Regions from separate parts of the Homo sapiens genome. Here region 1 is linked to region 2. The links come from fine-mapping of genetic effects on gene expression. A gene starts in region 2. The other region holds a variant in brackets. All regions are shown on one strand. Distances are between the middles of the regions.

Region 1 (5,381 bases), 120 kb after region 2:
AAAGCAAGGATACCTGCACTGCAATTCACCCTCAGAAAAATTCTCGTCCACATGGCTGGCATCAAAAGATGGCTAAGCTTCAGTTATCTGGAAAATTAATTTACATAGACAGACTCTTTCTGCAGTTAAGCAGAGTATATGGAGCTCCAGTGTAAGATTTAAACAGTATATTTTCAGGTTAAGTAATTTAAGATGAGGAATGCAGAAAGGAGAACTTCTCAGAGGTTGAGGCCAAGAACCAGGTCATGAATGTCATTGCTTCAGAGAAGGTGACAAGCAATGACAACTGGGATAAGAAGACTAATTTCCTCCTCAGCCTGGGAGACATATTGCAGCAGAGGGTAGTTTGGGACAAAACTCAGCAGTTGACTTTGAGAGAAAGGCATAAGTAACTGCTAAACTGTGAGACTGCTGCAGACCCTGGGGGCTCAAGCCCAACCCTCTGTTGTCATGCAAGCCCCTGTTCTCACACAGCATGGCTTTCCCAGACTTTCAAATCTGGATCATCTGCTCTTTTCGATGCCCAAGAGATGAAGAAAAAGAGACTGACTTCTCTGTTATTATGTACTTGCACTTTCTGATGTTCCTATTGCACTTCTGCCCAACAAAGAGGTGGTAAAATTATTCTCAGGGAAAGTGAGAAGTTCAGAGGAGTAAGAAATAACAGGTATTTAAAGATGTTAGGCCAAGCACGGTGGCTCACATCTGTAATCCCAGCACTTTGGGAAGCCGAGGCAGGAGGATAGCTTGAGCTCAGGAGTTCGAGAACAGTCTGGGCAACACAGTGAAACCCTGTCTCTACAAAAAAAAAATAATAATAATAATAACAAACATTAGTCAGGTGTGGTGGTGTATGCCTGTAGTCCCAGCTACTTGGGAGGCTGAGGTGGGAAGGATCACTTGAGCCCTAGAGGCGGAAGTTGCGGTAAGTTGTAATTGCACCACTGCACTCCAGCCTGGGTGACAGAGCAAGACTCTGTCTCAAAAAACAAAAAACAAAAACAAATACAAAAAAAAATATTAAACAACTCCAGCTGCTAACACAACACGCACATTGGAAACAGATCACCATACTGTGATTTCCTAATGCTCAAAGATACATTTACAAAATGAATTCTACTAAAAAAAAGTATTATTTGTGCACTTTTGACTTAATGTGTCCAAAAGTGAGCTCTTACTCTTCCTTCCCAAAGGTGCTCTTTAACACTCTTCCTTCATCTCCATGCATGACAATGCTATCCTTGCCATGAATCTTCGAGTCATCTTTGACTCTCACACGCACATCTGATTTATCAGCAAATCCTATTGGCTTCAGAATATATCCAGAATCTACTCACTTGTCACCATCTCCACTTCTGCCTCTCTGACCCATGTTGCCACTGGACCATTTCTCACCTGGATCACTGCAGGAGCCTTCTCAAGGGTCTTTCCACATCAGGCCTAGCTCCTCCTCTGCCTCATTTCAACATCTTCTCAAAGGTCTTTCCACATCAGGCCTTACTCCTCCTCTTCCTCATAGCAACCCAAGCAATCCTGCCAAGTAAACTAGAGATTGTCATTCCTGTTACCAAAATCTTCTAATGGCTTCCCATTTCAGTCCATGGAAAAGCCACTGTCCTTACAAGAGCTTACAAGGCCCTACCCCTGCACCCCATCCACCTATTTCTGCGACTTCAACACCTACAACTGTGTACGCCTTCCTCTGTCACTGTTCAGACCACACTGGCCTTCTTACAGGTGAGTTTGCACCCTGGGACCTTAGTGCCTGCTGTGTCCTCTGCCTGGAATGCCCTTCCCCAAGATATCACTTCCTTCAAGTTAGGTAAAACAACCCCCAGCCCCCAGCCCCACAATCAGCAAATAGCATGTTCTCACTGAGGCCTTCCCTGGCTTCCCTCTCTGAAATCAGAAGTCTAAATCCCATACCTCCCTCCCTGCTTTACTTTTCTCCTTAACTCTCGGCACTACTCATTTGAATCACATCTTCTATCTGTTGTCAGACTTATTTTGTCTGTTCTGTTCCCTGCCATATCCTCAAAGTCTAGACCAGTGCCTGGCACATGGAACACATTCAACAGATATTTGTTGGAACGATGAATTAATACAGGGCACTGAGGGGACATGGCAAGTATGAAACTCCTTTGGGGTCTGGTCTCTGACTCACTATGAAGCCGCATTCTGCCCTGCTCAGGGCCCTTCCACACC[A/G]GCTATGCCCTGACGCACCACACACTCTGTACTCTCCAGAGCTCTGAATATGCTTATCCTGCTGCCTGGGATTTCTGACTCTCTCTCTCTCTCTTTTTTTTTTTTTTTTTTTTTTTGAGATGGAGTCTCGCTCTGTCACCCAGGCTGGAGTGCAGTGGCATGTCTCAACCCACTGCAACTTTTGCCTCTCAGGTTCAAGCGATTCTCATGCATCAGCCTTTCAAGTAGCTGGGATTACAGGCATGCGCCACTATGCCCGGCTAATTTTTGTATTTTTAGCAGAGATGGAGTTTCACCATGTTGGCCAGGCTGTCTTGAACTAATCTCAAATTATCTGCCCACCTTGGCCTCCCAAAGTGCTAAGATTACAGGCATGAGCCACCGCACCCAGCCTCACTCTTTTTTTTATGTTTTTGAGACGGAGTCTCACGCTGTTGCCCAGGCTGGAGTGCAATGGTGCGATCTCGGCTCGCTGCAACCTCGCACTCCCGTTCAAACGATTCTCCTGCCTCAACCTCCAGCGTAGCTGGGATTACAGGCACCGCCACCACGCCAAGCTAATTTTTTAATTTTTAGTAGAGACAGGGTTTCACCATGTTGGTCAGGATGGTCTCAATCTCCTGACCTTGTGATCTGCCCACCTCAGCCTCCCAAACTGCTGGGATTATAGGCGTGAGCCACCTCGCCCAGCCTCTTTTTTCAATCACTGTTATTTTTATCCTTATTTAGTTCACTACTATACTCACTTTCTCTTGAGTTGATTGGCCATCTGGTGTCAGTTCTTTTGTCAATTGATTCAACAAAAATGTGTCAGGCTGTAAAGACACAAAGATACACTGTTCTGAGCTCTTAAGATATTGGCATCCACATTCCCTGCCCTCAAAAAGTTAAAGGTTTAGACAGACAAGAAAACAAGTTACACATAATAATTACAAATTGTGAAAAATACTGTGAAGGAAATAAAGAGAAAGTGTTGAGACAGGATAACTCTGTTGACCTTGATGCCCTTTGTGGGCGGGAACTGGAGAGGCTCCTTTCACTCAGCCCACTGTCGGCCACTCCTCCCAAAAGAGAGCCTGCGAGCAAGCGAGTGCAGCAACCGGAGACAACACTGGAACTGGCCCATTACTCCTCTCTGGCAGGAGCACGCTCTGTGCAGGCCCTATAGCAGCATCCAAGCCCCTGCCCTCTCCGTACCCGGGCATCCAGGAAGAATCAGGCCACAAGAACGAATAGAAGGGTGGTTGGTGTATGCGGAGGATTTTACTGGGTGATATAAGTGGCTCTCAGCAGGATAAGGAATTGGAAAGGGGATGGGTGTGGGAAGAAGGTGATCTTTCCCTGAAGCCACACTGTCTGAAGTTAGCCACATCTATCCATAGTCTTGATGCTCAGCAGCTTGTACCCCCACCGCTCCGCTGCTTGTGTTGCTCTGCCAGTTGAAGTCTTTTTATGTCAACAGGATAGGGGCGTGGCAGGCCAAAAAAGTAACATTTGGGTGGAAAAACAGGGTCAGCTATTTTCACTTAGGGCTGTGGTTCCAGGCTTAAGGGTGGGGTGGGGAGGGGGTTTAGCCAGGAGCCCAGCTGTTCTGTATCAGTGTGACAGAGAATAATGGAAATAGTAATACTTTATTAGGGTACTCAGTGAGGATGTCTATGAAAAACACATAAGGATAAGAAGGTGCTGACAGTGTTGAACTTTACCGGAGCCCTGTGCTCCTGGAACACAGCAATCGTTAAGAAGTCTCCCCAGCTTTCTGTGTTCTAGAAATGGCTAACTGAAATCAACCACCATTCCCTATATGACTTAGACAAGACACTGCCAACTCTTTCTCATGATTCCTACAAGACTGTAGATGATTCCTTTGTTTACCTGTGACAAGGTCAAACCCAGACTTTTCCCCTTTAAACTGAGCCTGCACATAAGGTCAGACAGACACCTTCTAACTTTATTCTTTGTCTCATGGATGATTAGCTGAGATAAGTTTTGTCCTCATGAAACTAACTAGACACAGAAATAAACAATCCCAACTTTAAATTTACTCCACCTATAACTTGTCTACTCTTCCCTATAAAAATCTAAGACAAGGCCAGGTGTGGGGACTCACACCTGTAATCCCAGCACTTTGGGAGGCCAAGGTGGGCAGATCACTTGAGGTCAGGGGTTTGAGACCATCCTGGCCAACATGGTGAAACCCAGCCTCTACTAAAAATACAAAAAAATAAGCCGGGCATGGTGGCGGGTGCCTATAATCCTAGCTACTCAGGGGGCTGAGGCAGGAGAATTGCTTGAACCCAGGAGGCAGAGGTTACAGTGAGCTGAGATCACACCACTGCACTCCAGCCTGAGTGGCAGAGTAAGACTCTGTCTCAAAAAAACAAACAAACAGAAAAAATCTAAAACAAAACTATCCTGCTAGATACACTGTAGTAGGCTGAACACGGCCCCTGAAGATATCCAGGTCCTAATCCCTGAAATCTGTGAATTTTACCTTACATGGAAAAAGGGCTTTTGCAAATGTGATTAAGGATCTTGAGATGAGGCAATCATCCTGGATTATCTGGCTAAGTCCTAAATAAAAGCACAAGTATTTTTTTAAATTTAAATTTTATTTTACTTTATTTTATTTTAAATTCTGGGATACATGTACAGGATGTGCAGGTTTGTTACATAAGTAAACACATGCCATGATGGTTTACTGCACCTATCCACCCATCACCTAGGTATTAAGCACCACATGCATAAGCACAAGTATCTTTGTAAGGGGGAAGCTGAGGGACATTTGACTATAAGCAGAAAATCATGTGATGGAAGCAGGGTCAGACAGAAGATGCTACACTGCCGGTTTTGAAGATAAAGGGGCCATGAGCCAAGGAATGCAGCTCTAGACATGGGAAAAAGCAAGAAAACAGATTCTCCCTTAGAGAATCTGCATCTCTCCAGAGGCAATGTGGCACCAGAGACACCTTGATTTTTGGCACGGAAGACTCATTTTGGAATTCTAGCCTCCAGAACTGTAAGGGAATCAATTTCTATTGTTTTAAGTCACTAATTTTGTGAAAATTTTTTACAGCAGTAATAGAAAATAAATACATACTCTAATCTTCAAATCTGGGGTGTTTTCCCTATTGCAATAGCCAAAATAAAATCAATCTCCTTACTTATTCAGTTTT
Region 2 (5,381 bases):
AAAAATCAGCTTTATGGGCATTTACCATGGAGCCATATTTCAAGTCATAAAGTGACAAGTCAAAGTCTCCAACCGTGATAATAAATTATTGGAGTGGTGCTTATACATCCGCAGCAGAATCATGTAACTTAGTTCTGCTCCCTTGAGCTCGGCCTGCAAAGAGAATGAATGGTTATAGATCATAGTATGGAAATACAGACTCAACTATACCACTGGTCCAGACAATGTCAAAATCAAAATCAAAGGAATCAAATTCATAAAAAATTGTTCATACTGTACAGACAAAATGTTTACATGATTAGTCTCTGAACTAATTTTGAATAAATTATTTTTGTAACAGTTTGGAAACATACATAGAATAATAGATGGAATAAAATGATCTCCTTTCCCACAATCTATGACTGACTGCATTGCCAGAATTCAATATCTCTAGCATCTTGCTACTTTATTTTTATTTATTTATTTATTTTGAGACAATGTCTCGCTCTGTCACCCAGGCTGGAGTGCAGTGGCACAATCTCAGCTCACTGCAATGTCCGCCTCCTGAGTTCAAGTGATTCTCCTGCCTCAGTCTCCTGAGTAGCTGGGATTACAGGCACCCACCACCACACCCAGCTAATTTTTGTATTTTTAGTAGAGACAGGGTTTCGCCATGTTGGTCAGGCTGGTCTCAAACTCCTCACCTCAGGTGATCCTCCTACCTCGGCCTCCCAAAGTGCTGGGATTACAGGCATAAGCCACCACTCCTGGCTGCATCTTGCTACTTTAATTGGTCCCAAAACTAGTAATCTCTGGCATCACCTAGGAAATTGTCAGAAAAGCACAATCTGAGACCCAACCCCACACCTACTGAATCAGAGTCTGCATTTTAGCAAGATCGTTGAAGATTCATATGCATGTTATACTTCAAGAAGCACTGTTCCAGCCCAGAGTGCTAATAAAGAATGTGGCCCTTGGCAAGTTTAAAAAGGGTCAATAAAACCATGGCCATGGAAATGTCCCTAGAATAAGATATGTCTTTCAGTCTTTCATAGAGGGCAGTTAGTTCACCTACATTTTAGGACATCTTAATAGTTTAAAATCAAAAAACAACTTTTAAAAAATGTGGTCTTATATGAACTCTCAGTTATACATTGCCCATTTTTTTGTAAGACCATTACATTTCCTAAATCAGTAAATACTCTAAATAATCATGAAGTTTGTCTTCACTTTGTTATTGAATCTAGTTGCAGTTACATTACGTTTTCAAAGTATTTTCTTTAGATGAGTGTCCCAATTCTGTATCTACATTTCCCCCAACGACTCACAGTCCAGTAGTTATAAGGTGAATAATTAAGATTGTAGGGAATCTAAAAGTGCTTGCAACTTGTAGGTTCTGGATAGAGTCGCAAAACATAAATAGAATTGGGAACCCTGTAACTGAGTTTGTTGAAACGGCCAGACCCCTAAAATAAGGATAAAGAGCAAGGTTTCTGTTGTTGTTTTTTTGTTTTCCTTTGCTTTGCTTTGCTTTACCTTGCTTTCAACGTCGGTTAGGTTTAGAATCTACATATTCAACACTGTTTAGAAAACGTACCTGGCAGCTATCTAGAGCTTTATCAGAGCGTTTCCTGGCTGCTATTTTGTTGTCTTCTAGCTTGTGTTGGGGAGACAGGTCTCACCACGCACCATTTCAGCACTACGGACAGCGCCTAGGCGCCTTCTCCTAGAAACGGAAGGGGATTCAGTTGTGTTTGTGTGGAAGAGAGAAGGGAAAGAGTAGAGGAAAAGAACTCCAAACGACACATTCAGTCTCCAGTTAAATCAATACACCTTTCACTCCTGAATTTTCCTTACCGGATAAGAAGAAACGTGTAAGAATTTAGTGCCTACTGTTCTACTGAAAACGGCTGTCACCAAAGCACAGCAAAATGCCCGCAGCACAGCCAGGAATGCAGCAAAGAGAGCAAAACAAGGATTTCAGCAGTAAATCAATTAAACCCTCACTGCCTTAGTAAACAAAGATAATGATGAAATCTAATTGCTAACCTTCAGGGTGTGTCGTGAGAAAAAAAAGGAGTGTCTATTTTTTTCTTCCTCTCTTCCTCTTTCTTTTAGCAGAACTGAAGAATAGAGCCTGTTGCTGCTGGAGCTGATTCCCTTCCCCTCCTCATCTCCCACCTCCTTTCAGTCTCACATACACACACAGATGCTGCCACAGACACACGCGAGCGCAAATATTTACACACTGCCACACCGAAGAAATCCATGCACGTTTTCCTGCAAACGCGCGCGCGCACACGTACTTCGGCGGGCGCCCACGTCCTCTGTCTCACCAACAGACACAGACATTTACACTTCTAGGCCAGGAAAGCGCTAACCAGGGCCCTGTGACTCTACGCAGGTTCCAGAACACGCCTTCTACATTTGTTACTGAACCGATCAGCGAACACAGACAAACGTGCCAACACTTAAGTCTACTGGCTGGACTTCATCTCCATGGCAACAAGCATGGAAGGTGAGACATCGCTGTCTGCGAAGTAACTTTCTCCCCCTTCCCTCCGCATTAACTGACAGCGTTCCAAATGCAGGTCCAGATGAGAAGCATGTCCTCATTCTCTTGTATTTCTGAAGCAAAAGAGCGGGGGGTGGGGCGGTGGGTGGAGGAGCCAGTAGGTCTGATAAGTTCAAATTCTAAAGGAGAAACAGCACCCCTAATGCTAGCGCCACTGCTGATGCGGCTGCCAGGCGGGGGAAAAGTGTTGTGTACGTGCAGATTGCTGATGCTTCTCCCATAATGTTTTGTAGGAAGTTTCCATGCTTCTTCGGTTTAGTGCGTAGAAAGAGACCTGGAAACAAACAACGCAGAATGATGATGATGGTCTAGGTTTCTTTAATGAGATATCTGGAGAATTTTCAGACCAGGTTTCCCAGTGCGTTGGAAGGATTGAGTGTCAGAGTCCTTGAGCCATCCAAAGATTCTCTTAAGAGAGAAATTCTCTTAAGGTTGAAATCTGAGGGTTTAGGGGTGGATTCTGGCAGATCCTAAGGTCTGGGATCTCTGGAAAGCCCTGAAATTTATGCATTTCACCATGATGAAGACATCTAGGTTTGTAATTTAAGGTTTTCCTTTTATTCCAACACATTCGATTCTTAATGATTAACTACCTCTGTGCAGATGTGGTTTCAATAATGCTTCTTTTCTCTCTTTTACTGGGATATAATCTTTATATTTTGTGTGGAGTGTGTATATGTATGGAATGGTTCATTATTTTTTAAGCTTGGGTTTTCTTATATGTCTTATTTCATGAAATTATGAATGTCATCATTAGCAGTAGAGATTATTATATCTAATGACCAGTGCTAAAATACTTTCTACCTAGAACATCATATTCCACTCTAATAGTTATTATTTCAGGTTTATTGTTTGGAATACCATTACTAGAGAAATAAACAAGAGGAAAAACCTGTTGATTAAAATAAAACACAGGAGGTTCTTTCTTTAATGGGTACACACTTTTTAACATTAGTTTCTGTAATTGTGCATTGTTGCATGATTAAATGATTTTATCTGAAAGGTATATTTTTATATCTCTAGTAAGGTTATTTCACAGAAGACATAAACATCACTAACAATATTCATGAATATGAAAGGCTGCATATCAGGTATAAAAATACTATCATCTTTGCTTAACTGCTTACGGAGATATGATTTGTAAGTACTGATCATAGGAAGACTTTGTTTTTTACTTACTAGTTGCCAATTACAAAGCAACTTCATGAGATTTGGGCTATTTGATATCTACAGGAACACCCCTGGCCCAATCTTATGACTCATCAGTACTTAGAAATCTTGGTGCCTGACAATTGCCATGAAGGAAATGTACTTTCAACCAAGTTACTCATTGCCAAAGTACCTAACCATTTATTCCAGTGAATATGGCTCAAGACAATATTTTATCATTTGCATCAGTAGTATTAAAAGACACTTAAATATTTTAATCATTATATATATTGATCCTGATATTTAAACTGTGCATTGTTTATTTTACCCAATTTTGTGGTATAATATATTTCAAATAACTTTTACCACTACCCAATTTTACATTCTACTTATTTTTGAAAGTTCATTTTTTCTTAACTATTTTTATATGGATTTTTTAATATATGGTTTTGTAACTTAATCTAAATTTTCTCAGATTTCTTTTTTTTTCTATTTCCCAATAAACAGGATATTAAAATGATGCTTCTCTGGAGCTAGGCATTACAGTGTCTGTTGTGAATAGCTCTTCCAGCTTTTAGAGAAAGTGAAAATGCATATTTTATCTATAACTGTTGAGTATTTTGAACACCTTAGTAATTGTGAATGAATCAGTTTTATAACTGGGGACTTTTGTTTTTAATAATATTTTGTTATTAACAATATTTTCATATCATATTATGCTCTATATCAGTAGAAAAGCAGGACTTGGCACACTTAACAGTATATCCTCAAAAACTTTGGATTTGTTGTTGAAATGAGACAAGTTCTTCATTTCACAGAGCAAGTAAAATGGAAAGTTTGGCCAATTGTTTGAAAAATTTAGGCCTGAAATACTGATATTTCAACTGCTATATATATGGTTTAAATTACTAAAACCATCTATTTGCTGAACACATTGTTAGGCAATTGCTTAACTTTTTACTTCTATTTGCTTGTGTAGGCACAGCCTGCAGCAATGGACAAATTTTTAATCAGCCTTTGAATATTACTTTTTCAGTTGCTCTCCTTGACCTGTATTTTGTTTTCATCTTTAGTATAAAGTATATTTTATGATAAATATAAAAGCCTGTTTTCTCTTTTAAGATATTAATAAAACATTTGTTCTTTCTCAACCCATTTTTTTTTTGTTAAAAATGGAAATTTTACAGTTCTTTGAATCCAGGTAAATTTATGGAGCTCTTCCTTTAAAAACTGAATATGCAGTCATGTCTTCATTATTGAAAGTGATTCATCATATGATTTAACCTTCTGTACCGACTAAGTAAAACTTATTTTCTGTCAAGTTTATTTACCACCTGACTCCATTTTCTCATTACCCCTCACTCCTAAATCCAATTCAATTTAGTGTCCCTCCTAGACTCTCAACTAAATTTTTATAATGATGAAATAATTCTGAATGCCAACCATAAGACCCTGTTTTCCAGTGCTTAGTTTCCATCACCGCTGCAGAATTTGACACTGTTTGCTAATGCCTCATTCTAGAAGCCCTAGCCTCCTTTATTATAGGTGAACTTTCTGCTACAGATTTACTCATGATTCATCTTATATAACTCCACTAGGAGATCCTCCTTGTAGGAGAGGCATTCCTTGGAGTTCCTTGCTAGGCTTCTTCCATCTTTAATCTTTTCTGGTAACAGAA

The links. PIP is the estimated chance that this variant, and not a neighbour inherited with it, causes the effect.
Region 1: its variant is fine-mapped to the expression of CTXN2-AS1 in whole blood (TOPMed, PIP above 0.99).

What each region holds. Positions count from the first base shown.
Region 1 is chr15:48,311,944-48,317,324 of GRCh38, forward strand. DUT-AS1 (DUT antisense RNA 1) reads right to left here. Exons shown (of 3, transcript NR_186809.1): 2 at 2,952-3,020; 3 at 1-798. LOC124903486 (a long non-coding RNA gene) reads right to left here. Exons shown (of 2, transcript XR_007064625.1): 2 at 4,781-5,381. Among named protein-coding and RNA genes, the nearest start is that of DUT, 17 kb to the right of the region's middle. The variant A/G (reference allele first, on the strand shown) is at 2,206.
Region 2 is chr15:48,189,357-48,194,737 of GRCh38, forward strand. CTXN2-AS1 (CTXN2 antisense RNA 1) reads right to left here and starts at 2,353. Exons shown (of 3, transcript NR_184082.1): 1 at 2,229-2,353; 2 at 1,577-1,705; 3 at 1-153. CTXN2 (cortexin 2) reads left to right here and starts at 2,309. Exons shown (of 2, transcript NM_001145668.2): 1 at 2,309-2,497. RefSeq lists an enhancer at 2,313-2,816.